Homo sapiens: one gene and its partners. The protein of the gene in region 3 purifies or fractionates together with the protein of the main gene of each other region. This does not show direct contact. Each region holds a gene or a part of one and is shown on either strand. Other genes may lie near its edges.

Region 1 (3,440 bases), on a different chromosome or scaffold from region 3:
CGGCGGGGTGGTGGGGGGGCGGGGGAAGGGACGCACAGCTTGAAATCTGGGGATTTGGACAGAGTCCTGGCTCTAGCCTGTCTTGTCCCATGACTGTGGGTGAGGCACGGCCCCTGTTGAATCTCATGGAGTTAATCTGTATCTTTACGTGGGGCTTTGGCAAGAACCAGATGAAATGACAGGCCAGACACAGTGGCTCATGCCAGTAATTCCAGCACTTTGGAAGGCTGACACGGGTGGATCATCTGAGGTCAGGAGTTCGAGACCAGCCTGGCCAACATGATGAAACCCCATCTCTACTAAAAATACAAAAATTAGCCAGGTATGGTGTTGCATGCCTGTAATCCCAGCTACTCCGGAGGTTGAGGCAGGAGAACTGCTTGAACCTGGGAGGCAGAGGTTGCAGTGAGCGGAGATCGTGCCACTGCACTACAGCCTTGGTGACAGAGCAAGGCTCCATCTCAAAAAAAAAAAAAAAGAAAGAAAGAAATGAGAAATCTGTGGGTGCTTTGTAAACTGAGGTGTAAACTAGGGCTGAGTTGGGGGACCTGCCCAAGGTCTCTGGGCAAGGTCAGTACAGAGCTGGGTCCAGACCTGAGCTCCGATCTCTTAATCCAAGGTTTAGTCCAAACAGGAGGAAGAAAAGGAGGGCCCAGGTGACTAGGGGGCAAGGACAGCATAGGGATGTGCCTCTCTGATCATGCTCACACCTCCTCTCCACGGAAAGGAAATCCCCCAACTTCAGAGGCAGAACCACTACTTCTCATACATGCAAAGCATTTTGCAGTTGACAATGCTCTCAGGAGACGTTCAACAGCTCTGACAAGTAAGCATTGTCTTCCCATTCTCCAGGGGCAGAGTCAAGACGCAGATGGGTGAAGGGACTTGCTCAGGGGCCCCCTGCCCATCCCCTGGCTGCACCCTACCTTCGTCCCCTCGTACAGGAAGGCATCCCAGACCCGAAGGAGGATGTTGCTAATGAGACTGTCCGCAAAGACCACGAGGAACCAGTTGAAGGTGACGAGGGAGAGATCCACGTGGTGCTGCCCCAGATGGGCCATCAGCCTGGGCAGCTTCTCCGAGAGCAGGTCCTGGAGCACCCGCTGGTCCACCTGGAAGCCAGCGAGAGGGCCTGTCATCTGCAGCCCCAGCGTAGGGCTGCCTCCCTCCCTGCCCAGCCTTCCTACCCAGTCAGTCCACACACAATCCTGAAGCTGCTCTGGGCAGGTCCTTTCCTGCCCAGGAGACACCTCGGGGAGCCAGGGGCCAGTCTAGCTGGGAGTCAGGTACAGCATCATATCACTCCGCTGCTCCTAATATAGGCCAGAGTCCTCTGGACTGGGGCACTGGGCTCTGCAGTGGAGCCATGTGGGCTGGCACGTTCTCCGCCCGCTCACCCATCTGAATCCCTTGAGCCAAGCAGGAGGTCAGGGGCCAGCTGATCCTGCTGGCAGTTCAGAGACACTGGTCTCATGCCCAGGGGCCTTGGCGAAATGGAAGCTTTGTCTCTAGGCTTATATCAGCTGACAACCACAGCCCCTTCTCTATACCCAATTTGTGCCTGACACCTAAGATGCTAGGCGGATGTCTGGTCCAGGGACAGGTGTGTGTGGGAACGCATAATGTCCTGCCTCGCCGGACATCAAGGAATCTTCTCAAAACAGGGTGCTCCTGGCGACACTGGCCAGTGACCTCTTCTTGTGACCACTGTCATGCCTCCGTCCTTGTTTCACTGGATGGGTTAACCACTCTCAGCACTGGCTCCAAGACATGGTTCTTTCGTGGTTCTCCTCCTCCCTCTGTGATGACTCCATTTCAGTTTCCCCTTGCTTTTCCTGGAACTGCTCAGTCCTCTCCTCTCACTTATGTCCTCTTCCAGGCATTAGCGTCAGCTGTGGCAAACAGCCAGTAGCTCCCCTCCTCCCTCACCCAGAACCTTGGGTCATCTACCGAGGCCAAGTGTCCAGTTCAAAACCTAAGGTAACTCCCCAAGTCTAAGATGCCATTGACCTACTGAAGGATTTATGGATGAACTGATACAATGCCAGAAATTTACTTCAAGACAAAGCAGGAGGAGCGGATGGGAGTTCAGAAGAAATAACACTGGCTCCCTGGGTTGATAACTGAAGCCAGGTAATGGACACATGGAGGTTCATTATACTATTCCCTCTATCGTTTTGAATGTGGGAAATTTTCCATAATAAAATATGGAAAAAAGGGTCATATAACACACATCAATTTCAGAGATGTTAAGATGTAAAAATTAAATATGTACATTTCCTAACTTGCCTTGCAACTAGGGCAGCCATGAAATAGTTCTGACCAGTAAACTGCAAGTAGAAATTGCTGGGTCAGGGAGCCAGCTCCTGGTGTTCACCTTCTGCTTCTCCTGGCCTAGGCCATGCCCACAGTGCTGGAGGCGATGCAGCCATTTTGTGACCAGGAGGTGATGGGTGTGAGGATGAAGGCCACCTGCCAGAGATGGCAGAGCAGGGAGCTAGGAGCCTGAACCCTGCGGTACTGCCTTGTCATTCACTATCTGAGAATAATAATCCCCGATTGAAGCTGTTGTTAGGTTGGGCTTCTCTTCCATGCAGCCAAATGCACTCCCACAGTGCAGAGGGAGAAATGGAAGCCCGAGAGATTCCCAACTTTCCTGAGAGTCACAGGCTTCTAGGAACAGCTCTGGGGCACTGCCCTACATGGCTGCAAAGTCCCCTCCTGGCCCCACTTACCTGGGATGCCGTCAGCGTGTTGCAGTAGTAATCAGCGGGCATGATGGTCTCCACAATGGCCACCAGGCACCAGAAGGCGCTCTCCTCCTCCTCTAGGACCAGCAGGGCAATGGCCGCCAGCCTGGAGTAGTAGGGAAGGCCTGGAGTGATTACAGAAGCCGTGGCCCTGCCAGGCAGCACATGGCAGAGGTGGCTTCCTGGGTTCCAGGGGGAAAGTCCTTCCATGTGAGCATCAGTGCAATCCCACTCCCTAACCAGATTTGTGCTCCTGGCACCTGGGGTGAGATAAACGCTCTTTTGGGGAGGATGACCGGCGATTTCCAGAGCAATGGGGGTCACTTCAGAGCAGGGGCTCTGAAATCAGGCTGCTTGGGTAAATCCTGATCTTGTGGCTTCCTGGGTGACCTTGGGCAAGTTACTGAACCCCTGTAAGCCTCAGTCTCATAATAATCACAGGACTATTTTGAGGATGAACAGAGCTCATTCAGTGCCCCACACAGTGCCTGCCACACAGTGAGCTCTTTATAAATGTTAGCTATCCTCACCTTAGTATTCACAGGCTTTGAGACCTTGGCAAGTACACTAACCTCTCTGGGCCTTGGTTTCATGATCTGTAAAGTGAGATTAACAATATCTATCCCCCCGGGGCCAAGAGGCATCTTGAGACAGACCTACCTTGCCTCGCTCACTGCCTGGCATTTAGGA
Region 2 (4,371 bases), on a different chromosome or scaffold from region 3:
GAGCAAATGGACCAGACAGAACACGAGAAAGGAAAGTGGAGGGGCAGGAGGGAGACAGGAGAGTCAGTCGGGGGTGACGGTGGAGGGCGGGAGAGGCCTGAGGGGCAGACGTCAGCAAAGGCCTGTAGGACGCAGGAGTCAATTCACTCGCCACGGAGAAGGGCAATCCAGGCCGAGGGTGTGGCTACACGGGGAGGGGTGGAGAGTGGGTACAGTGGGGCAGAGGTGCCGGGCCAAGCGAGAGGGGAAGGCGTGGGTCAGGCCCCGCCCCACACTTCCCCAAAGCCGAGATGCCCACCCCTTCCTTGACTCCACCTGTGCCCAGCCTGTTCCGTCACAGCCCTTCACACGTGGGACTGCAGCTATCTACAGGTGGCTCTCCCGGAGGCAGGGAGCATGTGGGCGGCCGCGCCCCTCTGGCGCCCAGCACCGAGCCTGACAGACAGGAGCCTTGGGAGGCAGGTGGTGGCAGAATGGGAGCACTGAACCGGAAGAGTGGGCCAGACCCCTCTTGGAAGGGACTCTGCTGGTGGTGTGAATGATGCCACAGCACCTGCTCCTCAGGTCAGTCCCCTGGACATGCAGGCGCTTAGCACTGCACGGTGAGCTGGAAATAGAGGACAGGGGTCTGAGCCTTGAGGTCCAACCTCTGGTCAGGCTGGGAGAGGCGTCCACAGACATGGAAGAGCTCAGGAAGAGGCTGTGCAGCTCCTCACCCCCCAGAGGGAAGCAGCAAGTGCTGAGGAAGCATCCAGGAGCAGGGCTGGCATCAGGGGAAGGGGGAGGAGCACAGGGGCTGGGGTGAGGGCCCAGGAGGGCAGCCAGTGTGCAGACTGCTCCTCATCCCAACACTGCTCTTGCCGCCCTCGCTCCTGAATTCAGAGCGTTAAGAGAAGCGACACAGCAGCGCGGCCTGTGTGAGCTGCACGAGAACTTTCACACTGCCTTGTCGTCACGTGAGAAAAAGTAAAAAGTTAAGATTGATTTTAACAATAGACCTTATCTAACCCCAAATACCAAAATATTATGATTTTAACACATAATACAAAAAATTAAGATATTTTAAGTATTTCTGACACTAAGTCTTCGCCACTTGGGCATATGTCACAGGTAGGGTACGTCTCAGTTCAGACTCTGGCCCCTGGCAACCACGCTGGACAGCACAGGTCACCGGTAGCACTGCTTTTCCCCATGTGGCGCGTGCACACGCTCACACAGAGGGACAGACAGTGCGGCGGGTGGCAGGTTGTGTGTTTCCTCTACTTTCGCATATTCTAAACTTTCTACAATGAGTATGAACTACTTAAAAAAATTCTAAAGTATAACATATTTGTAGGAACCTCCCTCAAATCAACTCACCTTGGCTTGCTTTGTTTGGAGTTGCTATGTAAAGAATCCCAAGAAGAAAATTAATAAGCTCAGGTATAAACCTCTGGGACAAAGCCACATACTCCAGGAACAGGCAGCACACGAACAGGCCCTTCACCACGTCCTGGAGGGACAGGATGGGGCACTGGAAAGGAACATATGGGGGGTTACTGTCCTGGGACGATGTCATGCCATGCTAGGCCGACCACCGGGCTTCCCTGATGAACCACGCACCCCACTGAGCTTCACAAGTACAGAGGGAACCCCCGCACCTTATAGCAGTGTCGAGAGCATCAAATGAGATGAAAACAAGATAAAGAGCTTTAGTGATTTTTTTTTCCCGAGACGGAGTTTCACTCTTACCACCCAGGCTGGAGTGCAATGGCACAATCTCGGCTCACTGCAACCTCCACCTCCCGGGTTCAAGTGATTTTCCTGCCTCAGTCTCCCGAGTAGCTGGGATTACAGGCATGTGGCACCACACCCAGCTAATTTTTGTATTTTTAGTAGAGACGGGGTTTCGCCATGTTGGCCACACTGGTCTTGAACTCCCGACCTCAGGTGATCCGCCCGCCTCAGCCTCCGAAAGTGCTGGGATTACAGGCGTGAGCCACCGCGCCTGGCCAGAGCTATACTGATTATAAAGTTCCTTCCACCCATACAGAGCGTACGATTACTGCACTAAGCATGTACCAATCACATGCCTAATAAAGAAAAAGGAACAGCTTGAACTTTTTAAGCCAAAAAGGGAACAAAAGCCCTTATCATCACACTGGATAACTTCACCACTAACTTGAAAGGTTGTTTTCTGGGGTAGCACCATCTGTAACCTTGAGGTGCCAAACCAGGCCCTCCCACTCCCACCCACATCTGGGGCTGCTCGAGCCGGGGCTCTTTTAGATGGGCCCTCTTTGGCCTAACCGCAGTGCTCGGTCTCTGCAGCCCTTAAACAGCCACACTCATGTTCCACAAGGCCCCGAGGGGCTGTGGCTCCGGCCACCCGTGGTGCAGCAGGCCGACCCCTGCCGCATGTGGAGAGAACGCACCTTGGTGAGCAGCTGACTGAGGCACACGAGGGCAGGGGTCACCACTGGGTGCCAGAAGTCGGAAGTTGGAAATAGCAGCCCAGTGATTTTCAAATAAATGAGCTGGAAAGAAAGTGTTACCACAGGTTAAAGAAGGTAAATGAAGTCCATCCATATGCCCTCCCCGCAAACACTCCGGAGCCAAGAACAGGATCTGGCGAGGAGAGGGTGCATCTCCTTGGCCCAGAGCTCTGGCCTCAGTGTCACAGAACAGGCGTCCAACCACCGTGGGTCAACCAGCTAAACGTGCAGTGAGGACACTGAGGCCCATGAAGACTTCAAAGCAGTCAACAATGGTTATAGACACGGGCTCAGATCATGTTTTGGGGAGTTGATTAAAAATCACTAACCTAAGTCCTACATTTTTAAGCTTCTGCTAACTATTGTGAATCCATTTCAACACAAACACCAGGCAACAGAATAAAGAGCGTATCTCAGCAAGTATTTCCTTAAAGTTACTAAAGCTGAAAATACAGCATGAGGCTGTTATAAAATTGTTAAAAATCTCAGCGTACAAATGTCTCCCAACCTTTGAATAACATAGAAACCGAGACCAATTTAAACCAGCCCACAGGCTTGGGCCCTTAAGGACAATACCGTGGTTCTATTTGCCTTCCAATGTTTTTGTCACTGGACCAAATACAGCACCATTCACGTGGAATCAAACCAGAATCTCCCTGCACGACCCACACGTTAGTCCATGGCTAGTGGAGGAGTGCCCTCCCCTCCCAGGCTCGCTGCCGTGCACTCTCACTCCAGATCACCCTCACTGCCGTGCACTCTCACTCCAGATCACCCTCACTGCCGTGCACTCTCACTCCAGATCACCCTCACTGCCGTGCACTCTCACTCCAGATCACCCTCACTGCCGTGCACTCTCACTCCAGATCACCCTCACTGCCGTGCACTCTCACTCCAGATCACCCTCACTGCCGTGCACTCTCACTCCAGATCACCCTCGCTGCCGTGCACTCACTCCAGATCACCCTCACTGCCGTGCACTCTCCAGATCACCCTCACTGCCGTGCACTCTCCAGATCACCCTCACTGCCGTGCACTCTCACTCCAGATCACCCTCACTGCCGTGCACTCTCACTCCAGATCACCCTCGCTGCCGTGCAGCTCACTCCACATCACCCTGGAAGCACAGGGTACAGCCAAGAGCATCGTACCCGTCGTCCACCTTCTGTGATGCCAAACAGAACTTCTGTGGCAGGGGCAGTGCCTAGACTGAACTCTGCTTACCACATCCAACCCTGGCAATGCCGCCCGGCCTTTGGTCTCAATCATTTCTTCCATCTCATGCATCGCATCTCGGAGAACAAATTTGATAGCGTCACTTGCAGATTCAGGAAACATCTGGCAAAGATGATATAAGTGCCTGTTAAGCAGAAATGTAAAGTCAGGAGAGAATGACTTTAGATAAGAAACACAGAAAAGCCCTGCAAGCCACTTTCCTATGCAGTCACCTGTTGACTGAGCAAGTAAGAACTGGATGAATCCGCTTTTTCTAACAGCATTCTTAAGAGTCTACACTCACTTCTGCCATTTCCTAAAAACTCGGCCATAACATTATGGACTGGAGGTGGTGGGAGAAACAGCTCGATTTGTGGTACAGACGTTGTTGGGGGCACCACTCTGTGTGGCAGCTGCAGCTGACAGCTCCAAGGCACTTTCCATATTAACTCATTTATTCCTCACGACAGGTACTTCTTTGATAGTGCCTCCATGCATGCAGAAGATGACGTGGAGAGCTCCGCGCGGCACAGGGCAGGAAGCTGGTGTGCACTCTCATGGATCCGAAGCCAACACACGCCTCTCAACTGAGGACTCTGCCCCTCTGGCATTCTTCCAGCCACCAGCCCTGGGGGCCAGGAGCCACTGAGTGGGTCACACAGCCTTAGAGGGCAACGAGGGC
Region 3 (4,371 bases):
GCTAGGAGTTCCCATGCCGCCCCCGCCCTGTCTTGTGGCCTCACCCTTTAAAAAAAAAAAATCATTCATTGGCTGGGAGCAGTGCTCGCTCCTGCAATCCCAGCACATTGGGAGGCTGAGGCAGGAGGATCGCTTGAACTCAGGAGTTTCAGATCAGCCTGGGCAACATGGCAAAACCCTATCTCTACAAAAAAATTTTAAAAATTAGCCAGGTGTGGTGGTGCACGCCTGTGGTCCCAGCTACTCAGGGGCCTGAGGCAGGAGGATTGCTTGAGCCTAGGAGGTGGAGTAAGCCAAGATCATGCCACCGCACTCCACCCTGGGTGACAGAGTGAGACCCTGTGTCAAAAAAAGAAAAAGAAAAAGAAAAATAATATATATAATTAATCTACTATTTTATTTTATTTTATTTTTTTTGAGACGGAGTCTCGCTTTGTCACCCAGGCTGGAGTGCAGTGGCGCAATCTCAGCTCACTGCAACCTCCACCTCCCGGGTTCAAGCGATTCTTCTGCCTCAGCCTCCCGAGTAGCTGGCACTGCAGGCGCCCGCCACCATGCCCAGCTAATTTCTGTATTTTTAGTAGAGACGGGGTTTCACCGTGTTAGCCAGGATGGTCCCAATCTCCTGAACTTGTGATCCGCCTGCCTTGACCTCCCAAAGTGCTGGGATTGATTACAGGGGTGAGCCACCGTGCCTGGCCTATTAATTTATTTTAGGGCCGGGGTGTTGCTCTGTCGCCCAGGCTGGAGGGCAGTGGCGCAATCATCGCTCACTGCAGCCTCCACCTCCTGGGCTCATCATCCTCCCAGCTCAGCCTCCCAAGTAGCTGGGATTACAGGCATGCACCACCACGCCTGGCTAATTTTTAAAAATTTTTTCGGCCGGGCACGGTGGCTCACGCCTATAATCCCAGCACTTTGGGAGGCCGAGGCAGGTGGATCACGAGGTCAGATCGAGACCATCCTGGCTAACACGGTGAAACCCCGTCCCTACTAAAAATGCAAAAAAAAAAAAAAAAAAAAAAATTAGCCAGGCGTGGTGGTGGGCGCCTGTAGTCCCAGCTGCTGTGGAGACTGAGGTAGGAGAATGGCGTGAACCCGGGAGGCAAAGCTTGCAGTGAGCTGAGATTGCGCCACTGCACTCCAGCCTGGGTGACAGAGCGAGACTCTGTCTCAAAAAAATAAAAATAAAAATAAATAAAAATAAAAAAATTTTGTGGAGCAGGGGCCTCGCTATGTTGCCCTGGCTGGTCTCAAACTCCTGAGCTCAAGTGATCCTCCCACCTCAGCCTCCCAGAGATTACAGGTAAAAACTGCACCCAGCCTGGGGCCTCACCCTTTGAGGGGCTCGATGACAGTGGCTCCCGTGTAGTCCTCGCCGCCCTCTGACTTCACCACGGGCATCAGCAGCCCCTCGTGCATGGCCTGGGAGGGGAGAAGGTGGGAAATGGAGTGGGTATAGGTGGGGCCGTGCGGATTGGGAGTGGGGAGAAAAAGTGCATCCAGGATGCCATTGCCTGGAGGGGGCCACAGACGTGCCTGGTGGGGGGTGGCGAGGACAAGTCTCGGCTACTGACCTGCCGCAACAGCTGGGATACGACCTTGACCTGCTGGCCACGACTGAGCAGGTAGCTGAGGGGCACGCCAGTGACCCTCGCCATCTCCACGGCGTTCACCAGCACCATGAGCCGCTCCAGCAGCCGCAGTGGCAGGTAGGCATCCTTCAGGCAGTACACAGCCAGGCGGCGGCGGGTCTGGTCGTTCCCATTCTGGGGATGGGCACGGATGGGGTCAGGGACCAGGGGTTGGGGGTGGGAGGTGGAGCAGGAGAAGGAAGTGGGGGTCAGGGTGAGGTAGCCTGGGGAGGGCCTGGGAGGTGAGGCGGGCAGGAGGGCCCTCCAAGTCGTCAGGGTCTGGGTGGGGATGGAGGTAGGGTTGGGGGCCAGGGAGTCCACAGGGCCAGAGGGAGGAGGAGGGAGCAGCCTGAAGGCCACCGTGGACCTGTGGTCAGGCCAGGAAAGCAGAGACAAGGTCATAGTGACAGAGGTCACAGGAGTGGAGAGAAATCTGGGGTCAGAGGTCAGGAAAAAGTGGGCGTCAGGTAAGGTCACAGGTCATAACAGCAGGTCAAAGAGTGAGGTCAGACGTGGGGGCGTGAAGTTGAGGTCAGAGGCCGGGGAAGGGTGAGGTGGAGGTCAGAGGTTGGGGTGAGAGGTCAGGGAGGCAGCAGGCACCTGCAGGTCGGTGATGATGCTGTGCTGCACGTCCTCCTTCTGCTCGCCCAGGAAGTGGAAGCTCACGGCATTGAGCGTGTAGGAGCGGAGCTTGTACTCCCGCAGCAGCACCTAGGTGGGTGGGTGGGCTGGTGGGCTGCGGGCCTGGGCAGTGGCCTTCCAAGGACAGGGACACACCCCACCTCCCGCCCATACCTGCAGCATGTCCATCTGCACGCGGCCCACCATGCTGACAACCTTGGTGTCCCGCCGGCCCGTCTGCTTGGACTGGAATGAAGAGTCCCGGATGTTGGAGCAAAGGCCGGCCACACGGCCCAGGAAAGGGAATGTTTGTACCTGAGGAGGAGAGGCAGGGTGTGCAGCAGGCTGCGGGTCCCCGTCACATAAGCCTGAAGAACGGAGATTGAGACCAACCACAACATCCTTATAACAACCCTAGGGGGTCGAGAGCAACCCTGGGGGCAGAAAGACGGTCTGGGGCTGGGTGTGGGTGGCTGGAGACTGGGGAGGGAGTCCGGAGTAAGGACTAAGCTGCAGCCAAGGCTGGGATAGCGAGAGTCAGGGGCCCTGATGGACTGGGGGCCAAGGATGGAGCCCAGTGTCTGCGGGCTGTACCTAGGCAGGAAACAGGAAGAGATTTGGGGACACTGTGAGCAGGCGGCCAGGTGGGGGCAGAGGCAGGAGGCGGCGTGGAGCTGGGCTGAGATGGATGCTGAGGGCGCTGGAGGGCGCCTGGCTGCAGGAGGCCTTGCAGGGTGCTGGGGCCCAGCCTGGGGGAGACTGAGGCCAGAAGAAGCCTGAGCTGGGGACAGGGCAGAGGGTGAGGGACACCCAGGGAAGGGGAGGAGGAGTACCATGGCCCGGGCATCAGCGCCACGCTGTGGAATATACACTGGGGGTCCTAAGAGTTTGTTCTGTATTTTAGAATGGATTTTTTCTTGTTTTCTCTTTAATAGAGGCAGGGTCTTGCTATGTTGCCCTGGCTGGTCTTGAACTCCTGGGCTCCATCGATCCTCTCGCCTCATCCTCCCAAAGTGCTGGGATTAGAGGCGTGAGCCACCACACCCAGCCTGTTTTGTTTTTCCATTACCAAGCTGGCCAGACATAGAGAAAAGCAGGAAAATAAGGCAATATATCTCATTAAGGGCTGAACCATGTTCTCCCAAAAGATGTTGAAGCCCTAACCCCCGGCACCTCAGAATGTAACCTCATTTGGAAATATGTCTTCGCAGGGGGTCAAGTGAAGATGAGGTCACTGGGGTGGGCCCTCACCTCACGACGGTGTCACTACACAAAGAGGACATGTGGGCTAGGTGCACTGGCTCACACCTGTAATCCCAGCACTTTGAGAGGCTGAGGTGGGCAGATCACCTGAGGTGAGGATGGAGACCAGCCTGGCCAACATGATGAAACCTAGTCTCTGCTAAAAAAAACAAAAACAAAAACAAAAATAGGCCAGGCGCGGTGGCTCACGCCTGTAATCCCAGCACTTTGGGAGGCCGAAGTGGGCAGATCACCTGAGATTGGGAGTTCGAGACCAGCCTGGCCAACATGGAGAAACCCTGTCTACTAAAAATACAAAATTAGTCGGGCATGGAAGCGGGTGCCTATAATCCCAGCTACTTGGGAGGCTGAGGCAGGAGAATCACTTCTACACCCCAGCGCCCCCTGGGAGGCGGAGGTTGTGGTGAGCCAAGATCGTGCCATTGCACTCCAGCCTGGGCAACAAGAGCGAAATTCCATCTCAAGAAACAATAACAAAAAAGCAAAAATTTGCGGGGCGTGGTGGCTCACGCCTGTAATCCCAGCTACTTGGGAGGCTGAGGCAGGAGAATCGCTTGAACCTGGGAGGTGGAGGTTGCAGTGAGCCTCGATCGTGCCATCGCACTCCAGCCTGGGCGACACAGCGAGACTCTGTCTCAAAAAAAAAAAAAAAAAAAAAAGAAAGAGAAAAGGGGTTGGGTGCAGTAGCTCACGCCTATAATCCCAACACTTTGGGAGGCCGAGGCAGACGGATCACAAGGTCAGGAGATCAAGACCATCCTCGCTAACACAGTGAAACCCCGTCTCTACTAAAAACACAAAAAATTAGCCAGGCGTGGTGGCGGGCGCCTGTAGTCCCAGCTACTTGGGAGGC
Region 4 (4,371 bases), on a different chromosome or scaffold from region 3:
CGGCTGAGCTCAAAAGTTTGAGACCAGCCTGAGCAACATAGGGAGACCTCATCTCTACAAAAAAACTTAAAAATTAGCTGGGCATGGTGATGCATGCCTGTAGTCCCAGCTACTCTGGAGGCTGAGGTAGGGGGATGGCTTAAGCCCAGGAGGTCGAGGCTACAGTGAGCTGAGATTGTACCACGGCACTCCAGCCTGGGTGACATAGCAAGACTCTGTCTCAAAAAATAAACTAAAAACAAAAGAGAACTGAAGAAGACATTTCAAGGAAGCATAATTTGTGGAATTTGTTTAGGTCCTATTAAAAAAAAGACATTAGGCTGGGCACGGTGGCTCATGCCTGTAATCCCAGCACTTTGGGAGGCTGAGGCGGGAGGATCACCTGAGGTCAGGAGTTCGAGACCAGCCTGGCCAACATGGTGAAACCCTGTCTCTACTAAAAATACAAAAATTAGCCGGGCATGGTGGCTTGAGGCTGTAGTCTCAGCTATTCGGGAGGCTGAGGCAGGAGAATCACTTGAACCCGGGAGGTGGAGGTTGTGGTGAGCTGAGATCATGCCACTGCACTCCAGCCTAGATGACAGAGCGAGACTCCATCGCAAAAAATAAATAATTAATTAATTTTAAAAAGACATTAATGAAGCAATTGGGAACATATGAACACTGAATAGACAGGACGTTAAGGAATTATTGTTAGTTTTTTTTGGTGTGAAAATGCTACTAGGGTAATATTAATAGAGTATTTATCTCATATACTGAAGTATTTAAGGAAGAAATTATGTGCAGGGTTTGTTTGAAAATAATCTAGTAGGGGTAGGGATGAAGTAGAATAGAAAGAAGGTTGGCTATGAACTGCTGGGTGATGGGTACAGTACATGGAGTTCATCATACTATTCGATTTTTTTTTTTTTTTTGAGACAGAGTCTCGCTCTGTTGCCCGTGCTGGAGTGCAGTGACGCGATCTCGGCTCACTGCAAGCTCCGCCTCCCAGGTTCACGCCATTTTCCTGCCTCAGCCTCCCGAGTAGCTGGGACTACAGGCGCCCGCCACCACGCCTGGCTAATTTTTTGTATTTTTAGTAGAGATGGGGTTTCACCATGTTAGCCAGGATGGTCTTGATCTCCTGACCTCGTGATCCACCCGTCTTGGCCTCCCAAAGTGCTGGGATTACAGGCGTGAGCCACCGCGCCCGGCCAGTTTTTTTTTTGAGACTGAGTCTCGCTCTGTTGCCCAGGCTAGAATACAATGGCGTGATCTCGGCTCACCTCAACCTCCACCTCCCAGGTTCAAGTGATTCTTCTGCCTCAGCCTCCCGAGTAGCTGAGATTACAGGTGTGCGCCACCACATCCAGCCGATTTTTTGTATTTTTAGTAGAGACGGGGTTTCACCATGTTGGCCAGGCTGGTCTAGAACTCCTAGGCTCTAGCAATCCACCCACCTCAGCCTCCCAAAGTGCTAGGATTACAGGTGTGAGCCACTGCACCTGGCCCATCATACTATTCTCTATTCTACTTTTGTGTATGTTTACAATTTCTATAGTAAGTTAATAAAAGCCCAGCCAAGACTGAAATAAAAGTTGGTCAGGCGTGGTGGCTCACGCCTGTAATCCCAGCACTTTGGGAGGCTGAGGCAGGTGGATCACGAGGTCAGGAGATCAAGACCATCCTGGCTAACACGGTGAAACCCTGTCTCTACTAAAAATACAAAAAAATAAGTCAGGCGTGGTGGTGGGCGCCTGTAGTCCCAGCTACTTGGGAGGCTGAAGCAGAAGAATGGCGTGAACCCAGGAGGCGGAGCTTGCAGTGAGCCGAGATTGTGCCACTGCACTCCAGCCTGGGCAACATAGTCAGACTCTGTCTCAAAAAAAAAAAAAAAAAAAAGTTGCAGATGATTAAAGTTCCCCTTTAAAAATTCTATAATAACAGTGCCCTTTACACTTTCTTTACACTTGCAGGAAAAGGGAAAAAAACCCTCATAAACAAGTTTAATGACAAGCAGCACCTTGTTTCTTATTCGATCTCTCTTGACCACTTCTTCTTTCTTTTCAGTTTTTTCTGAGCTGCCTATTGATTCTGTACTTTCAGCCTTCTTTCCTTTATCCCGAAGTGTGTCTTTCTCTTTTTTCATTTCTTCTTCTTTTCTCTTAAAAGTCTTCTCTTTCTCATAGCGCTCCTTCTGCCTACGGCGCTCTTCTTCTTGCCGCTTCAGCCTCTCTCTTTCTCGAAGTATGCGCTCCTGATCTCGTTCATATTCCCGTTCCCTCTCCCTATAGTCTCTGCCGCTCTCATCTTCAGGTCTGCATGAAAAACAAATCTGAGACAGAACCCTGAAAGATCTTGTAATCACAAATGCAGGAACACTGTGATTCTGATTTGGCCCCTGCAATGAGGTTGCACTTTTAGAGCAGAGTGAAAAATACTAGTGTTTTAAGAAGGAACAAAACCCCAAAACCATTCACCCAGATTAAGATACAAGAATATTCTGAAACTGTTCCTCCTCATCCCCCTGCCCTGCATAAAACAGCTTATCTTAATTCAGGTACATGTCCAGGACATAGCAGCAAAACTAGCATGTATAAATCAAACATAACAAAGAGTCCTTGACTACTGACCTCTTTGGTTTTTCATCTTTAAGTTCGCTATCAGAACGCTTGGGCAATGTACAACTTTGCCCACTGGCTCTTTCATCACTGAGATTCTCTTTGTCCAATTTCTTGGCTTTTTCTCTTTTGTCCAATTCTTTTTCATCTCCTTTTTCTGGCTTCTTGAGCAGCTTTAAAGATAAAATGTTTATTTTTATTTTGAAGGCTGGGACACTATCTTCTATTAAAAACCCAGTATACCAAATATTTAAAATTTAGACTAGACAAAGCCCCCTATCTCTGCAGGTACACTTAATCTTTCAGGTGAACAACTAGTGCATAAGAGTAGTAATTTACTAAAAGGATGCTATTAATGTTAAAGTGTTATCCACTTGAACGAAGTGGTTTAATCACTTTGTGGCAATAGGATCAAGACTCCTTTGGCTTTTATTCTGAGGCAGGGTCTCACTACTCTGTTGCCCATGCTGGAGTGCAGTGGCATGAACATGGCTCACCGCAACCTTGACCTCCTGGGCTTAAGTGGTCCTCCTGCCTCAGCCTCTTGAGTAGCTAGGACAACAGATGCACACCACCACATATGGCTAATTTTTTAATTTTTTTGTAGAGACAAGGTCTCATCATGTCACCCAGGCTGTTCTCAAACTTCTGGGCTCACACCATCCTTCTGCCTCGGCCTCCCACAGTGCTGAGATTACAGGTGTGAGCCACTGTGCCCGGCTTCCTTTGGCTTTAAATGGGTCAACCTTTAAGTGAACCAATGCATACTTCAAAGTATGCTTCTGTAGCAAACCAGCATGTTGATATAACTTAATGGGAAACAGCCCACAAATTTTAAGTGATAGGCAGATCGTTTCTGTTGGGACTGTTTTTATGTAGTACTTGGAATGACAAATACCTTGGTCACCAAAGGAGAGATCCATTGCAGGAATAATTTTGCCTTGAGCCTGAGAATAACATACTTATGATGGTACAATTATCTTGCCATTAGAGATTAATAACAAGAATTATTTGGCATTTGATTTAAAAATCTAAAGGCCTTATACAACCAAATAGTGAAGTTCCATCTCTACTGAGTAGGAACTCTGTATTTAATGCCATATTTACGCATGTTCAAAAATGCCATTGTTTTTTACATTGCTGCTATGAATCTCTCGAGAATACCTCCAAGTGTCGGATAATCAGAGAGATTCTTAGGCAAAATAGAAGAATTTCAAGTCTCAGAGTGAAGGTATCACACAAGGTTCATCTCAGGGTGAAGGCATCATGTAAATTACTAAGCAAAAGGCAAAGCACCACAAGACATAAGCACAAAGCATTTTGGCACACAGACAGCCACTGCAAATGGTGAGTCCAAAATGGACACTGAGAAGGCACCAGTGTAAAATGAGGATACCATGTGCAGGTTTCATTGGAAGTGCTCTTATTTCTCCAATGAACATCCTTATTAGAAACCAAGGTGTTCATTACTCTAATAAGAACATTAATGAATGTCTCTAGCATGGCTGGCTCTACCTTCTGCCTTGCTGATTGTTAGGAATAGCAAGTCAAGTCACTTGTGGCATAGCAGACAGAGAGATTGCTGGAAAGAATTAAGATGAGAAACTCCATCCTCCCCCAAGCCCCTCATCATCAGTAATGAGCCCCGTAGAGACTTAGGGAACCCTTGCTACATAAACTGCTGAGTTTTCAGGAAATAAAATAAGGAGACCCTGCCACCCTCTCTGTGAGATTTTCTTTGACTTTATCTGAAGTGCTAGGTACTAGTACT
Region 5 (4,371 bases), about 32 Mb from region 3:
TGCAAGTTCCAGCCTTGGCATTGCTTGCGGTGGGTAGAGCTGTGAAGCCTGGGCTGTCTGGATCTGAGCTCCTTCGGCATCGTGTCATTACTGCCTGTTAAAAATGTCAGGAGTTTAAGGCCAGCCTGAACAGGGTGAGACGTCTCTACAAAAAAAAAATTCAGAAATTAGCTGGGGGTAGTGGCGTGCACCTGTGGTCCCAGCTACTCAGGAGGCTGAGGTGGGAGGATTGCTTGAGCCCAGGATGTTGAGGCTGCAATTAGCTGAGATCACACCACTGCACTCCAGCCTGGGCAACAGAGCAAGACCCTGTCTCAAAAAACAGAGTCTTGGCTTACTACGTTCACCGAGCTTCCTCTGGGTAAGCACTGAGCTGCCCCAATGGTGTTGCAGGCCGGTGCTGGTGTGTGCTCCGAGCAACATCGCCGTGGACCAGCTAACGGAGAAGATCCACCAGACGGGGCTAAAGGTCGTGCGCCTCTGCGCCAAGAGCCGTGAGGCCATCGACTCCCCGGTGTCTTTTCTGGCCCTGCACAACCAGATCAGGAACATGGACAGGTGTGTGTCGAGTCCATCCCTCCCAGTTGGTCCCTGAGCTTCTGCGGGTGACATGTACAGAACTCAGGCACCCTGCTGACCTGCATGTGCTTCCAGCATGCCTGAGCTGCAGAAGCTGCAGCAGCTGAAAGACGAGACTGGGGAGCTGTCGTCTGCCGACGAGAAGCGGTACCGGGCCTTGAAGCGCACCGCAGAGAGAGAGCTGCTGATGGTGAGTGCCCCTCCTGCCTGCAAAAGGGCCTGTGGGCTGGCGGCCTGATGGTTTTTGTTTGGGCCAAAGCACCTATTTGAATTGTTGCTTTGCTTCTGGAAAGAGAACTTAGATGCTCTCTACTTGGCCTCTCTGCGCTCAGTTGTACAGTAAATTAGGGACATCTCGCTGCCTGGAACACGGTCTTCTAGGGAGTCTCCACTCCCTGCCAGCCTCCACTGGGATCCGGCAGTGGATCTAGAACACTCCTGCTCTTTCATAACCAACCAGCCTGAACTGGAATCAGCCTGAGTGCAGGTTCCAGCAGCTCAGCACTGCCCCTTGGAGGCTGTCGTGAGGCGCAGAGCTCTTGGTGTGGAGAGGTTGCCTTCTGTGAAACATGACCGTTTAAGGATCTTAAAAGTTTGTAATCACCACAGCCTGGACCATGTATCTTGTCTGGGAGGGACAGCTTGTTTTTTATAGTGTCAGGGAGGGTGAGAAACAGGAGAGCTTCTGTGTTCTGTCCCACCTGCCCTCCGGGGTCTGGTGGCGTTTACAGTGCAGGTGCCCTGATGCCTCTGCACCCTTCCCCAGAACGCAGATGTCATCTGCTGCACATGTGTGGGCGCCGGTGACCCGAGGCTGGCCAAGATGCAGTTCCGCTCCATTTTAATCGACGAAAGCACCCAGGCCACCGAGCCGGAGTGCATGGTTCCCGTGGTCCTCGGGGCCAAGCAGGTGGGCTGCCTCCCCTGCCCTCCTGTGTGAAAACTCGTGTGTGTGATTCTTGGTGTTTGTCTTTTAAAACACCTTGTATTGACGTAGGATGCCCAGCAGAGTGTGCGCACACTGGGGGCTCCCTGAGGGGTTTATAGAGGGTGGGTTCTGCCAGCTGCACGTCCAGTGTGCGTGGTGAGCAATGCCCCTGTGGCCAGGTGGTGTCCTGTGCATCCTGGGGCCCCTACTTCCTTGCTAGTGTGTGTTGAGGCTGATTCACACCTGAGCTTCTTGACTTGTGGGGGCCCCTGTTCCTACAGCTGATCCTTGTAGGCGACCACTGCCAGCTGGGCCCAGTGGTGATGTGCAAGAAGGCGGCCAAGGCCGGGCTGTCACAGTCGCTCTTCGAGCGCCTGGTGGTGCTGGGCATCCGGCCCATCCGCCTGCAGGTCCAGTACCGGATGCACCCTGCACTCAGCGCCTTCCCATCCAACATCTTCTACGAGGGCTCCCTCCAGAATGGTGTCACTGCAGGTAACGGGGCTCTGCCCAGGGCAGGGGCTTCTACAGAGAAGCGGCATCAAGGGAATGTGGACTGGGGAGAAGGAACTGGCCCATCAGCTTCCCCTGAGCGGCTTCACATAGCCACTGCTTGAGGTCAGGGCACTTTGTGCCCAAGGTCTTGATGGTATGGTCTTGGATCAAGTGGTGTCTCTGGGGCATGTGGGGAGCCTGTGTCCTCTGTAAAACTCAGTCATTGCCTGAGAATTCATCCAAGCCTCATGTGGCAGCATGCACAGCAGCCAGGACAGGCTGTTAGGGGAGCTGAGCCCGGGCCTTAACGTGGGCTGTGCATTCAGTGCTTCATGAAGAACAGCTGTTCTCAGGGCCTGGGCCCCTGGGGCCCGCAAGACCGTGTCCGGCTTCCCTGGATAACACAGAGGCCTCACCTGCCCTTTTTCACTCTGCTGACGCTCACACTGCTGGTGACCCCCTGGTGCTTCTGCAAGAGTCAGCCCAGAGCAGCCAGACTGTGCCCGGATCACAGTAAGAAACGCCCTGGATGAGGAAGTGAACAGTACATCTTACTAAGCCTCGAGTGTTTCACTGTGACCAGATAAAATTTCTCGTGACACCTTTGGGTATGCCGGCGCTTGAAGGAAGTCCTTGTGGACACACCCTGGGTATTCACCCCAAGGTGTTGGGCAGACTTTTTCCAAAAATGATCGAACCTGTCGCTTCATGGAGAACTAGTGGCAACATCTGTTACAGTAGTAAAATTCAAGTGAAAACCAGAATTTTGGAAAACTTAACGTCGCTTGCCATGAGCTTGGTGTCTTCCCAACACCTAGAGACTTTTCTGGTGAGGTCTGTGGGGGTGACAGATGGAATGTTTCCACCATTGCCAGTGAAATGTGTCAGCCTTTGGAAGACCTACTTGACTCGGTGGGAGATCCTTCCTGAATGACCAGCAGAGTGTCACGAAGTCACATGGGGATGGAGTGGCAAAGAGTTGTCACAGGCCTGCAGAAACCCACCTTTGTCCAGCTTGATGTGGCCTCAGGGCTGGAGACTCCCAGCCATGCAGAAAGGCTGTAAAAACAAACCCATCTCCCTTTCCAGCCTCAGGCATCCATGAGGCCTGGCTTCCCCACAGCGTCCCCAGAGCCCAGGAGGGTGGACTGAGCAGAGGTGGACCCCAGGGCCCAGCTGCCTCCGATTCAGCCAGATAGTAAGGAGATTTGCAGAAATGGGAGACAGGACCACTCTTCTTACTTAGCTTATTTTTGGAGAAATAACTAACACGTAATGGGTTATTTTTAAATGAATTAATATATTTTTTAAATTTCCAAGTTTAGAGAATACAGTTATCCAATAAACAAAAGCTGTTTGGACTCCCTAACTTTTGAGAGTGTAAAGGGTCCTGAAAGCTGCCGACACAGCGCCTCATGAACTCCAAACCTGTGAGGTTGGTATTGTCAGGCCTAGTTACAGGAGAAAGTGAGGCTCAGAGCCCACCCCCCGGGTTGGGCCACACCACTCTTTGCCTAGCGGTAGGTCTTGGGAGTTGATGCCACTATTGACATCGCAGGGACACCGCTGTTCCCAGCGCATGGCAAGGCTGAAAACACAAGGCCACAGAGACCTAGCTTGTGCTCTGGGGTGTCTGAGCACTGGCTGGGAAAGGCGTGGCTCGGCGCAGGCTCAGACCCCTCATGGTCCCCAGGGCATCGGCCCAGAGGGCAGACGCTGGTGCACACTGCTCTCTAATTGATGCACAGCACGTAGTTCACACCCAGGAAGTACATTTTAGGAAATTCTCTATTGAAGTGTAAACATGTGGCCACATTACAAGTGTCTGGCTCAATGAGTGGTTACTAAGTGAGCATATTTGGATAGCCAGCACCTGAACCCAGAACCACCTGACCAGCTGTGAGAAGCCGCCTCATCCCTGCAGGTGGCCACTGTCCAGGGGTGCGCATCCACAGCAGCCCCTGGGCTGAGGGACTTCTGAGCTCATCCGGCGGCCCCTGTGCTCGCTGTAACAGCAGTGATCCACTTGGCCTCATTTTCAGCTCGACGTGGGATCATATGATGTGTCCTGGCGTGTCTGGCTTCCTCTGTCCATGTCAGGCTGGTGCTGTGCAAAAACACCGGTTTTCTCCACTGATGGAAGCTCCCAGTAGAGTGAGGAGGGCACCTGTGAATTGAGAAACTGGTTTTACAGTTTTAAGGAAACGCAACAGGGCCCAGAAAAGCCAAGATGAGCATGAAGAGCCCGAAGAAAGTGGCTGCTCACATGGCAGGACGCCCCGGCCCCCAAGCTGCAGTGTTGGGCCCCGGCCCAGGAGGGAGCCCAGAGGCAGAGCCACCGGTCAACAGGCCCTCAGCAGGAATGGACA
Region 6 (4,371 bases), on a different chromosome or scaffold from region 3:
TTTTTTATATTACCAGTTTATTAAATTCATATTATTTCTAACTCTTGAGTATTGGTAATGATCACTGACTTACGTGTTTTTAATATTCGGGGTGACTCAAAGGAATTAGTCGGACTTGCTCAATTTGGAACTTTTTACCAGATTAATGTATCCCAAACAATGGCTGAAGTACTCATTCTGAAGATTAGGACAAATCTCCATTGACTTAGCAGATTTAAATTTAGATGTGTACAAATTGCCTGGGTCAAAGGCAGCTAAGCCATTTAAATGTTATATCTAGTTTCATTGGTTTCAGTGTCCAGCAAGAGTGCCTTGCAGTGAATTTTAGGTATCCATGATTCTTTGGTTATTTTGGTTTCCCCTGTGGAGCTTTTCTTGGTTTCTAGGAAACTGGAAACTTGCTTATTTGAATTTCTAGGATGATTTTTTTCATTTTTAGGTGAATGGAATCAGTGAAAATTCATCCTGACTCCCTTGATGTTTCTTTTTAAATAATCAGAAGAGCATGCAACATATATAAAATAAAAATACTTTCAACAGGTCACCAATAATATATAAGAAGTCCCAGGGAAATGGAAACAATTTTGAAATATGCTATCCAGCTGTGGCATTATCTTAAATTTTTATTCAAGTTACAGCTTTTTAATAAATGCTAAAATATAAAAGCTGCCCTGTGCTGATTAGACATATTTAATCAGCATATTTTCTTTGTTTTTAATGTTCTGCCAGTGATGTCCAATTTTATACTTTAATCCTTGCTTGTTTTAAATAGTAAAAAATATGTTTAGTCTGTGGTAAGGTACATAAGTTGTTTCTTCTCCAGAGTGAAGTCACCCTGCTGAGAAATGAAGTGGCACAGCTGAAACAGCTTCTTCTGGCTCATAAAGATTGCCCTGTAACCGCCATGCAGAAGAAATCTGGCTATCATAGTGAGTAATGTTCCATTACCTATAGCCTTAGGCTACGTCAGTGAAATACCGTCAGAGTGAACTGAGCTGCTACTTTAAAAATGGAGACTGTGCTTCTAATATTCAAGATTAAATATCAGAATTTCTGTAAGGTTATTATAGAATGCAGTAGAGAGGTATAATTTTTTAGAATCTAGAGAGTTTGAGTTTTCCTGTTTCTAGCTTTTTTCCTAAGCGTTACTATAGATCAACAAAATGGATTAGCTAATAATTTAAAATATACTGTAAGTACTTGATGATATTTTGTTCATCTTCTCAGGATAACACTTTGTCTTAGATTGACAGGGTGAAACACTACTTTTTTCCCAGCCTCCGTTCATTAATGATGATATTTTTCTTTTTAAAATCAGCTGACTGCCTTTAACAATATATGATATCCCTTTAAGGTATCAGATCCTATTGTTCTTTCTTAGATAATGTCAGCATTGTGTAACGTTTTTATTGTTGTAAACCTTTATATTGAGATATCTAGTTAGTTTATAAAAATGTTAAAACGGGAACAGTAGTTAAATTATCTGCTTGTAAATTTCCTGCTAAATGTTTTCCCAAAGAATGAGATTCTTTTGTTTTCAGCATTTTAAAGGTTAATTGTGCCTTTTCCTTTTTGTAATGTCCTTCTTTTTTGATAAGATGCACAGTGTTGGAACCAGCTGTTACTCTTGAATAAATGGCCAATTTTGTCCATAGTATACAAATTTGTAACAAACAACAGAGTTGGGAATGCATTAGGCAACATTTATAATATATAACCCACAGTTTTAGTCTTTATGATTTAGTGATATTTCAGGATATTAGTAAATGTGAAGATTGTTTCAACCATATGTATCCACTTCATTTTAATTTGCCAGTGTCAGTAATTCAAAAGAAAGAAACATTTTGTATTGGATGCAAACAGTTCCTCAGGTGCTCACGATAAAACTTAATGGCCACCATCTTTACTTGTAGTCATTATAAGCAGTTTCATCAGAATGGGCAATATTTTTTAATTTAAAAGATTCCGTAGATTTAGCTACTCTCAATTGCCATATATATTTAGAACGCTGATTTTTGTCAGTTTTGAGCATATAAATCTTGCTTATTTGATATCTAGTAATTTTGACAGGATGGTGAAACACATTGGAGTAAATTGGAACCATATAGAAATATGTTTGGGATTTATATTAACAATGATTGCTTCAGGGATGAGGCCATTATGGTTCCCATCTGACTTAACAACATAATTTCCTATAGAAGCTACTAGTTCAGCATTTATGCATACGTGATTTTCTTAACAAGAAATCTCTCTTGGATTTTCATAGTTTAAAAGGAAATAAATTGTTTTATAAAATTAAAAGGAAATTAACTGTTCTCTTAAATTGTATCCAATTCAGAATTACCTGTAATTTTTAAATCTTTGATAATTTATTAGATAATCCCAACAGTTTTGACTCTATTATCCAGGCAATGTATGCTCAGCAGATGCAAACCAGTTATTCATTTGACAATTGATTTACAAGATATCTTAAGTGTATAGATGCGTAGGTTTATATACTGTATACTTAAATGACTGAAAATCTAGATTAATACATTTTTAGTACATAGAGTACTAAGTTATGAGAATATAAGAAATGAATAGGATATGTTTGTTGTTTGGAAATAATCCTATCTTTATTCCTGTCTAGTCATGTAGATAATCAAATTAACTGAAATATAGTTCTACCATAAAATTAATTCTCTTCAGATCTTGGGAGATAATTGGATTTTGTAGAAATTTTCAGGTAATTTATATTTTCAAGTTTGAAATCTTTGAAATAAGTCTGACTTCTCTGTTGTGTAGTAGTAAAAATAGATACAGAAATTGACTAAGTGAATACCTTTGAAAAATTTACACTCTTCATTATGTTGTAGCACACAGCTCTTGCTAACAGTGGTGAGTTGTAATACTAGCTAAATCTTTAAAAACATTTGGGAATCAAAACTAAGATTTAGTAGAAATTAAGGAATGTTACAAAATCTTTCAAGTAAAGGTGGAAGTACTAAGTCACAGCCATAGGGTCTGTCCCGCCCAGTTTTAGCACTGAAAGTCCTACTTCCTAAGAAGACCCCTCAGTCGTGGGAAAACCATGACAGTTAGTCACCCCAACAGTTAAGTAATATAAAACCTGAATGAAAATACTAAGAGTACATTTTAAATATTTGGGTTCCATGAAAAATAAAGCACAAAAGTGATCTTATTGCCATGAATTCACATTCTTTAGATCTGGGCATAATTAAAGTTGTATTATAATTGTCTCTATAATTATAAATGGGAAGAAAAGCTTCTTGGGGACTAATCAACCACAAATACTTTTATTACTGAAAATATGTATAGGCCAGGCACTGTGGCTCATCCCTTGTAAGCCCAACACTTTGGGAGGCCAAGGCGGGAAGATTGTTTGAACCCATGAGTTCAAGACCAGTCTGGGTGAAATAGCGGGACCCCATCTCTACAAAAAATAAAGTTTAAAAAAGCCAGGCATTTTGGCACACACCTATAGTCCCAGCTACTTGGGAGGCTGAGGCAAGAGGATCACTTGAGCCCAAGAGTTCAAGGCTGCAGTGAGCTGTGATCGTGCCATAGCACTCCAGCCTGGGCGACAGGGAGACCCTATCTCAAATAAGGAAAAGAAACTTGTGGACATAGGTAGAGAACTTTCAAGATTACTGAATTGCCAAACAGCTGGTTTCTTTTAGCTTAGGTAGAGCTGGAAGTGGCTCTTTGAGTACAGCATGGTTTTCTGTATCTCTCTAGTGCTTGTGATTACACCAGTCATTTTCTCCCCTCACCTAGAACTGGACATAGGTGCAAATATATCACATTGTAAAGGTATTTGATGTGTATGTAAGGTTTATAATTACATAATTGTGAGTACCTGATTCTTTGTACTGCTTAAAGATTTGCTTTACCTAATTCTGAAAGTCTGTAGGTAAGCATTCATCCCTTATAATTTACTGTTTCATTTTAAGTTGTTGACTCCAGTATGTATTTACGTTTCCTTATACCACTCATCACAGATCAGCCTCTTTATTTTTAAAAGCTGGTGTGTCCCTTGAACTCAACATTCAGGGAAACGTCAGCCTGTTGTTCTTTTAAAGAATAGTGGTGAAGTTAGAATGGTGATCATTAAAAAGTCAGGAAACAACAGGTGCTGAAGAGGATGTGGAGAAATAGGAACACTTTTACACTGTTGGTGGGACTGTAAACTAGTTCAACCATTGTGGAAGTCAGTGTGGCGATTCCTCAGAGATCTTGAACTAGAAATACGATTTGACCCAGCCATCCCATTACTGGGTATATACCCAAAGGATTATAAATCATGCTGCTATAAAGGCACATGCAAATGTATGTTTATTGCAGCACTATTCACAATAGCAAACACTTGGA
Region 7 (4,371 bases), on a different chromosome or scaffold from region 3:
CAAGAATCACTTGATTCCGGGAGGCAGAGGTTGCAGTGAGCCGAGATCGTGCCACTGCACTCCAGCCTGGGTGACAGAGTGACGATCTGTCTCAAAATAAATAAATAAATAAAATTAAAAAAACAAAATGGGCAAAAACAAAAAAATGAACAGGCATTCCACATAAAAGGAACTACAAGTATGTACGAAAAGGTGCTCAACCATATTTACAATAAAAGATGTAAATTAAACTACACAGAAACTTTTTAAGAAAATCTAACAGACTGGCAAAGACAAAAAACTTAGCAATATATTATGTTTGGTCATGATATTCAGAAACAGACATTCTTAAACATTGTAGGTAGGATTATAAACTGGTGCAACCCTATATTGAGGGCAATATAACATCTTTAGAATTCCAGGTACATATAGGCTTTAACCCAGGAAAGCTAGAAGTTTATCCTCTAGCTATCTAGTCATCTTTTGGTATATACATGAGAGACTGGCTCCAGGACCTCCTGAGGATACTAAAATCTGTGGATGCTCAAGACCCTTATATAAAATGGTAAGAGTATTTGCATACAAACTATGGACACTCTCCTGTATACTTTAAATCATCTCTAGATTACTCATAATACTTAATACAATCTAAGTGCTACGCAAATAGTTGTTACATTGTATTGTTTAGTGAATAATGACAGGAAAAAAGTCTATACATGTTTGGTACAGTTGCTATTTTTTCCCCCAAATACTTTTGACCTGCAGTTGCTTGAATCAAGGATGCAGAACACACAGATATGGAGGGCTAACTGTACTGTGAAAGTGCAAAATAATGCATGTATAACGTTATTCAATACAGCATTATTCGTAACAGTAAATGACTGCAAACAACACATGCCCATCAATAAGAAACCAGTTAAATGAATTATAGTACATCCATACAATGGAATTCTCTGTAGCTACTTTTATTTATTTTTTAATCTTTTTTATTTTTATTTTTTGAGACAGCATCCTGCTCTGTTGCCCAGGCTGGATTGTATTTTTAGTAGAGATGGGGCTTTTGCCATGTTGCCTATGGCTGGTCTCGAACTCCTGAGCTCAAGTGATCCGCCTGCCTTGGCCTCCCAAAGTGCTGAGATTACAGACATGAGCCAACACACCGGGCCTGTAGCTACTTTTAAAAAGACAAATGAAGAAAGACTGAAGCTACATATATACTGATAATGAGTCAAGATCTAAAATAACAGTGTGTATAAACAGTGTATATAATATGTGCGTAGCATTGTTTTTAAAGGGAGGGGGGATTGTTTTTATTTGCATTTATTTACATCTCTGGAAGATATAAAAGGAACTAATAACATTTGTTGCCTTCAGGGAGGGAAAATGCATAGTTAAGGGTTGAGAGGTAGACTATTGTTTTAAAAGAAATATTTCATTTTGGAATAATTTTACATTTATAGCAAAGTTGCAATGACAGTGCGGAGTTCCCGTATAGCCATCACTCGGTTTCTCTTAATGTTAACGTCTTACATGGCACACATCTGTGAAACTATGTACGAGTGTCAAAACTAAGAGATTAGGTTAGCACTGATACACACTATTAACTAAACTCTAGGCTTTATTCAGATTTCAATAGTTTCTCCACTAATGCCAAATTTCTGTTCCAGGATCCAATTAAGAATACCAAATTGCAGTTAGTCATCTTGAATTCTTAGTCTCTCCTGGTCTGTGAAAGTTTCTTAGTCTTTCCTTGTTTTTCATGACCTTGATAGTTTTAAAGAAGTACTTTATAGAAGGTTCCCCAATTTGCATTTGTTTGATGTTTCCCTCATGTTTAGACTGGGGTTATGGGTTTTAAAAAAGAATATCACAGAGGTGAAGTACCCTTCTCAACATATCATATCAGGGATATAAGATAGTAACATGGCTTCTCCATCACTGGCAATGTTAATGTTTATCACTTGGTTAAGGTATGTCTGCCAGGTCTCTGCACTATAGTTACTACTTTTCTCTTTCTGGTACTCTTTTATTTGTAAGGTATTCATTAAGTCCAGCTCACATTCAGTGGGGAGGGGAAGATTAAACTCCACCTCCTGGAGGGAGGAGTATCTACCTATATTATTTGGATTTTTTTTTTGAGGCAGGGTCTAGCTCTGTGCAGTAGTACAATCATGGCTCACTGCAGCCTCGACTTCCCAGGCTCAAGTGATCCTCTCACCTCAGCCTCCCGAGTAGCTGGGACTACAGGCATGCACCACCATGCCCGCCTAATTTTTGTATTTTTTTGTAGGGACAGGGTTTTGCCATGTTGCCCAGGCTGGTCTCAAATTCCTGGGCTCAAGTGATCCACCCACCTTGACCTCTCAAAGTGCTGGGACTACAGATGTGAGCCACTGCACCTGGCCTTTAAATGCAATTTTAGCAGCACAATAGTAACTCACATATATTGAAGAGAAGCATCTTAGAATGTATTTTCAAGGGAGAAACAGGGTAAAAGGCTAACAATCTTCATAAGGCTTTGGTTCACATTGAACACTTATAGCTAAATAAGGTGTGACAACCAGAGAATTACTTCCAGCAGCCTGTTCTGGGTTCCTAATCCACCTACCTCTAAATGCAGAACCTTAACTAGTCAGCTTGTGCCAATGCTGGAAAAAGTGAAAGAGAGGTCTGAAGAAATCCTAAACTTCCAGTTCTCCTAAAGTCTGTGGTCTCACAGCAACAGTTATGAGCTGACCTGGGCAGAGGCTCACTCTAGCACCACAGTAAGAAGTCGTCCAATGAGACTGAGGAAAATGAGAGCTCTAGTTAGGACTTATAGCTCGTGACTGGCACCAATTTAGACATCAGGCACTCTTAGCCCACTTGTGCCAGGATGTGGAAGGCCCAGCTGCTGCCCCAGCTCCTGAGAAAGAGCCAAGGGAAAAAATGAGCAGACTGTAAGGGTGGGGGAAGGGGTAGCAGCCAGACTAACAGGCCAAACAAACCAAGTTGGGTTCTATACCCAATTCCTTAATGGCAACACTTACATGAACTGAAACACCTATTTCTGGGTTACGAACCACAAAAGGGCATTGCAACATTTGGGAAGGTAGAAAAGGGTACTTTCTTGGAACAGCCTGGCTATAGTACAGAAAACTCTGCTGAAACAACCCATCTAAAAACTAATTTCAATAATGGGCACAGAAGGAGTTAATAATTGTACAGATGAAGCCATAGGGGACTAACAACTGTTAATAGCAAAGGATATCAATGAACTGAATCATTTTTCTTCAGCAATACCATCAAAACCCTCTGTGGATGTCAGGCTAGGGTCTATATTTGGAACGAAGGCTCTAAGACAAGAAGTGCCAAATAGGGCCCATTCAGTACCTTCTATTTTTTCATTTTTTTAAAAAAATTGAGGTAAAGGCCGGGCGTGGTGGCTCACGCCTATAATCCCAGCACTCTGGGAGGACGAGGTGGGTGGATCATGAGGTCAGGAGATCGAGACCAGTCTGGCCAATATGGTGAAACCCCATCTCTACCAAAAATTAAAAAATTAGCTGGGTGTAGTGGCATGCGCCTGTAGTCCCAGCTACTCAGGAGACTGAGGCAGAAGAATTGCTTGAACCTGGGAGGCAGAGGTTGCAGTGAGCCGAAATCACGCCTGGGCGATAGAGCGAGACTCCGTCTCAAAGAAAAAAAAAGAAAAATGCTTCTTTGGCATTCTGCATACATTAATATGAAAATGGCTGCTTTATAATTACAAATAAATAGCCATTTGCATGTGGTTCCTTGAATCCCAGTATGTGGGTGAACTCTCCTGGCAAAGCCCTTTAGTCTTCATATAGCTTTCACAAAATTCTTGAATTAATGCAGCACAAACATAAAAGTGACTATAAGGCCGGGCACGGTGGCTCATGCCAGTAATCCTAGTACTCTGGGAGGCCGAGGTGGGTGGATCACCTCAGGTCAGGAGTTTGAGACCAGTCTGGCCAACGTGGCAAAAACCTGTCTCTACTAACACAAAAACTAGCCGGGTGTGGTAGCGCATGCCTGTAATCCTAGCTACTCCGAAGGCTGAGGCAGGAGAATCACCTGAACCTGGGAGGCAGAGTTTGCAATGAGCTGAGATCATGCCATTGCACTCCAGCCTGGGCTACAGAGTGAAACTCAATCTAAAAAAAAAAAAAAAAAAAAGTATAAAAGTAGAAAAAATTAGAGAAAAATGAGGCCGGGCGCGGTGGTTCACGCCTGTAATCCCAGCACTTTGGGAGGCCGAGGCGGGCGGATCACGAGGTCAGGAGATTGAGACCATCCTGGTTAACACAGTGAAACCCTGTCTCTACTAAAAAAAAATACAAAAATATTAGCTGGGCGTGGTGGCGGGCGCCTGTAGTCCCAGCTACT

Evidence for each region.
Region 1: the proteins of POLD1 (region 3) and TBC1D2 fractionate together in Homo sapiens (co-fractionation; one large-scale study listed by BioGRID). This does not show direct contact.
Region 2: the proteins of POLD1 (region 3) and NOP14 purify together in Homo sapiens (affinity purification with mass spectrometry, with the first as the bait; one large-scale study listed by BioGRID). This does not show direct contact.
Region 4: the proteins of POLD1 (region 3) and UPF3B purify together in Homo sapiens (affinity purification with mass spectrometry, with the first as the bait; one large-scale study listed by BioGRID). This does not show direct contact.
Region 5: the proteins of POLD1 (region 3) and UPF1 purify together in Homo sapiens (affinity purification with western blotting; one study listed by BioGRID). This does not show direct contact.
Region 6: the proteins of POLD1 (region 3) and ATF2 purify together in Homo sapiens (co-immunoprecipitation; one large-scale study listed by IntAct). This does not show direct contact.
Region 7: the proteins of POLD1 (region 3) and MMS19 purify together in Homo sapiens (affinity purification with western blotting; 3 studies listed by BioGRID and IntAct, with this or other methods). This does not show direct contact.

Annotation. Positions count from the first base shown.
Region 1 is NC_000009.12:98,200,553-98,203,992, forward strand, and holds part of TBC1D2 (TBC1 domain family member 2A), read right to left. Parts: intron 2,876-3,440; coding exon of another isoform or gene 2,857-2,875; coding exon 2,736-2,856; intron 1,113-2,735; coding exon 927-1,112; intron 1-926. UniProt on the Homo sapiens protein: Acts as a GTPase-activating protein for RAB7A. Signal effector acting as a linker between RAC1 and RAB7A, leading to RAB7A inactivation and subsequent inhibition of cadherin degradation and reduced cell-cell adhesion.
Region 2 is NC_000004.12:2,942,714-2,947,084, forward strand, and holds part of NOP14 (nucleolar protein 14), read right to left. Parts: exon of another isoform or gene 4,160-4,371; intron 3,835-4,159; coding exon 3,699-3,834; intron 2,517-3,698; coding exon 2,415-2,516; intron 1,514-2,414; coding exon 1,360-1,513; intron 1-1,359. UniProt on the Homo sapiens protein: Involved in nucleolar processing of pre-18S ribosomal RNA. Has a role in the nuclear export of 40S pre-ribosomal subunit to the cytoplasm.
Region 3 is NC_000019.10:50,404,381-50,408,751, reverse strand, and holds part of POLD1 (DNA polymerase delta catalytic subunit), read right to left. Parts: intron 2,571-4,371; coding exon 2,430-2,570; intron 2,346-2,429; coding exon 2,235-2,345; intron 1,770-2,234; coding exon 1,578-1,769; intron 1,426-1,577; coding exon 1,337-1,425; intron 46-1,336; coding exon of another isoform or gene 1-45. UniProt on the Homo sapiens protein: As the catalytic component of the trimeric (Pol-delta3 complex) and tetrameric DNA polymerase delta complexes (Pol-delta4 complex), plays a crucial role in high fidelity genome replication, including in lagging strand synthesis, and repair.
Region 4 is NC_000023.11:119,835,755-119,840,125, forward strand, and holds part of UPF3B (regulator of nonsense transcripts 3B), read right to left. Parts: intron 2,774-4,371; coding exon 2,613-2,773; intron 2,298-2,612; coding exon 2,003-2,297; intron 1-2,002. UniProt on the Homo sapiens protein: Involved in nonsense-mediated decay (NMD) of mRNAs containing premature stop codons by associating with the nuclear exon junction complex (EJC) and serving as link between the EJC core and NMD machinery.
Region 5 is NC_000019.10:18,855,532-18,859,902, forward strand, and holds part of UPF1 (regulator of nonsense transcripts 1), read left to right. Parts: intron 1-393; coding exon 394-558; intron 559-654; coding exon 655-769; intron 770-1,345; coding exon 1,346-1,489; intron 1,490-1,788; coding exon 1,789-2,002; intron 2,003-4,371. UniProt on the Homo sapiens protein: RNA-dependent helicase required for nonsense-mediated decay (NMD) of aberrant mRNAs containing premature stop codons and modulates the expression level of normal mRNAs.
Region 6 is NC_000002.12:175,077,218-175,081,588, reverse strand, and holds part of ATF2 (cyclic AMP-dependent transcription factor ATF-2), read left to right. Parts: intron 1-823; coding exon 824-929; intron 930-4,371. UniProt on the Homo sapiens protein: Transcriptional activator which regulates the transcription of various genes, including those involved in anti-apoptosis, cell growth, and DNA damage response.
Region 7 is NC_000010.11:97,487,996-97,492,366, forward strand, and holds part of MMS19 (MMS19 nucleotide excision repair protein homolog), read right to left. Parts: intron 1-4,371. UniProt on the Homo sapiens protein: Key component of the cytosolic iron-sulfur protein assembly (CIA) complex, a multiprotein complex that mediates the incorporation of iron-sulfur cluster into apoproteins specifically involved in DNA metabolism and genomic integrity.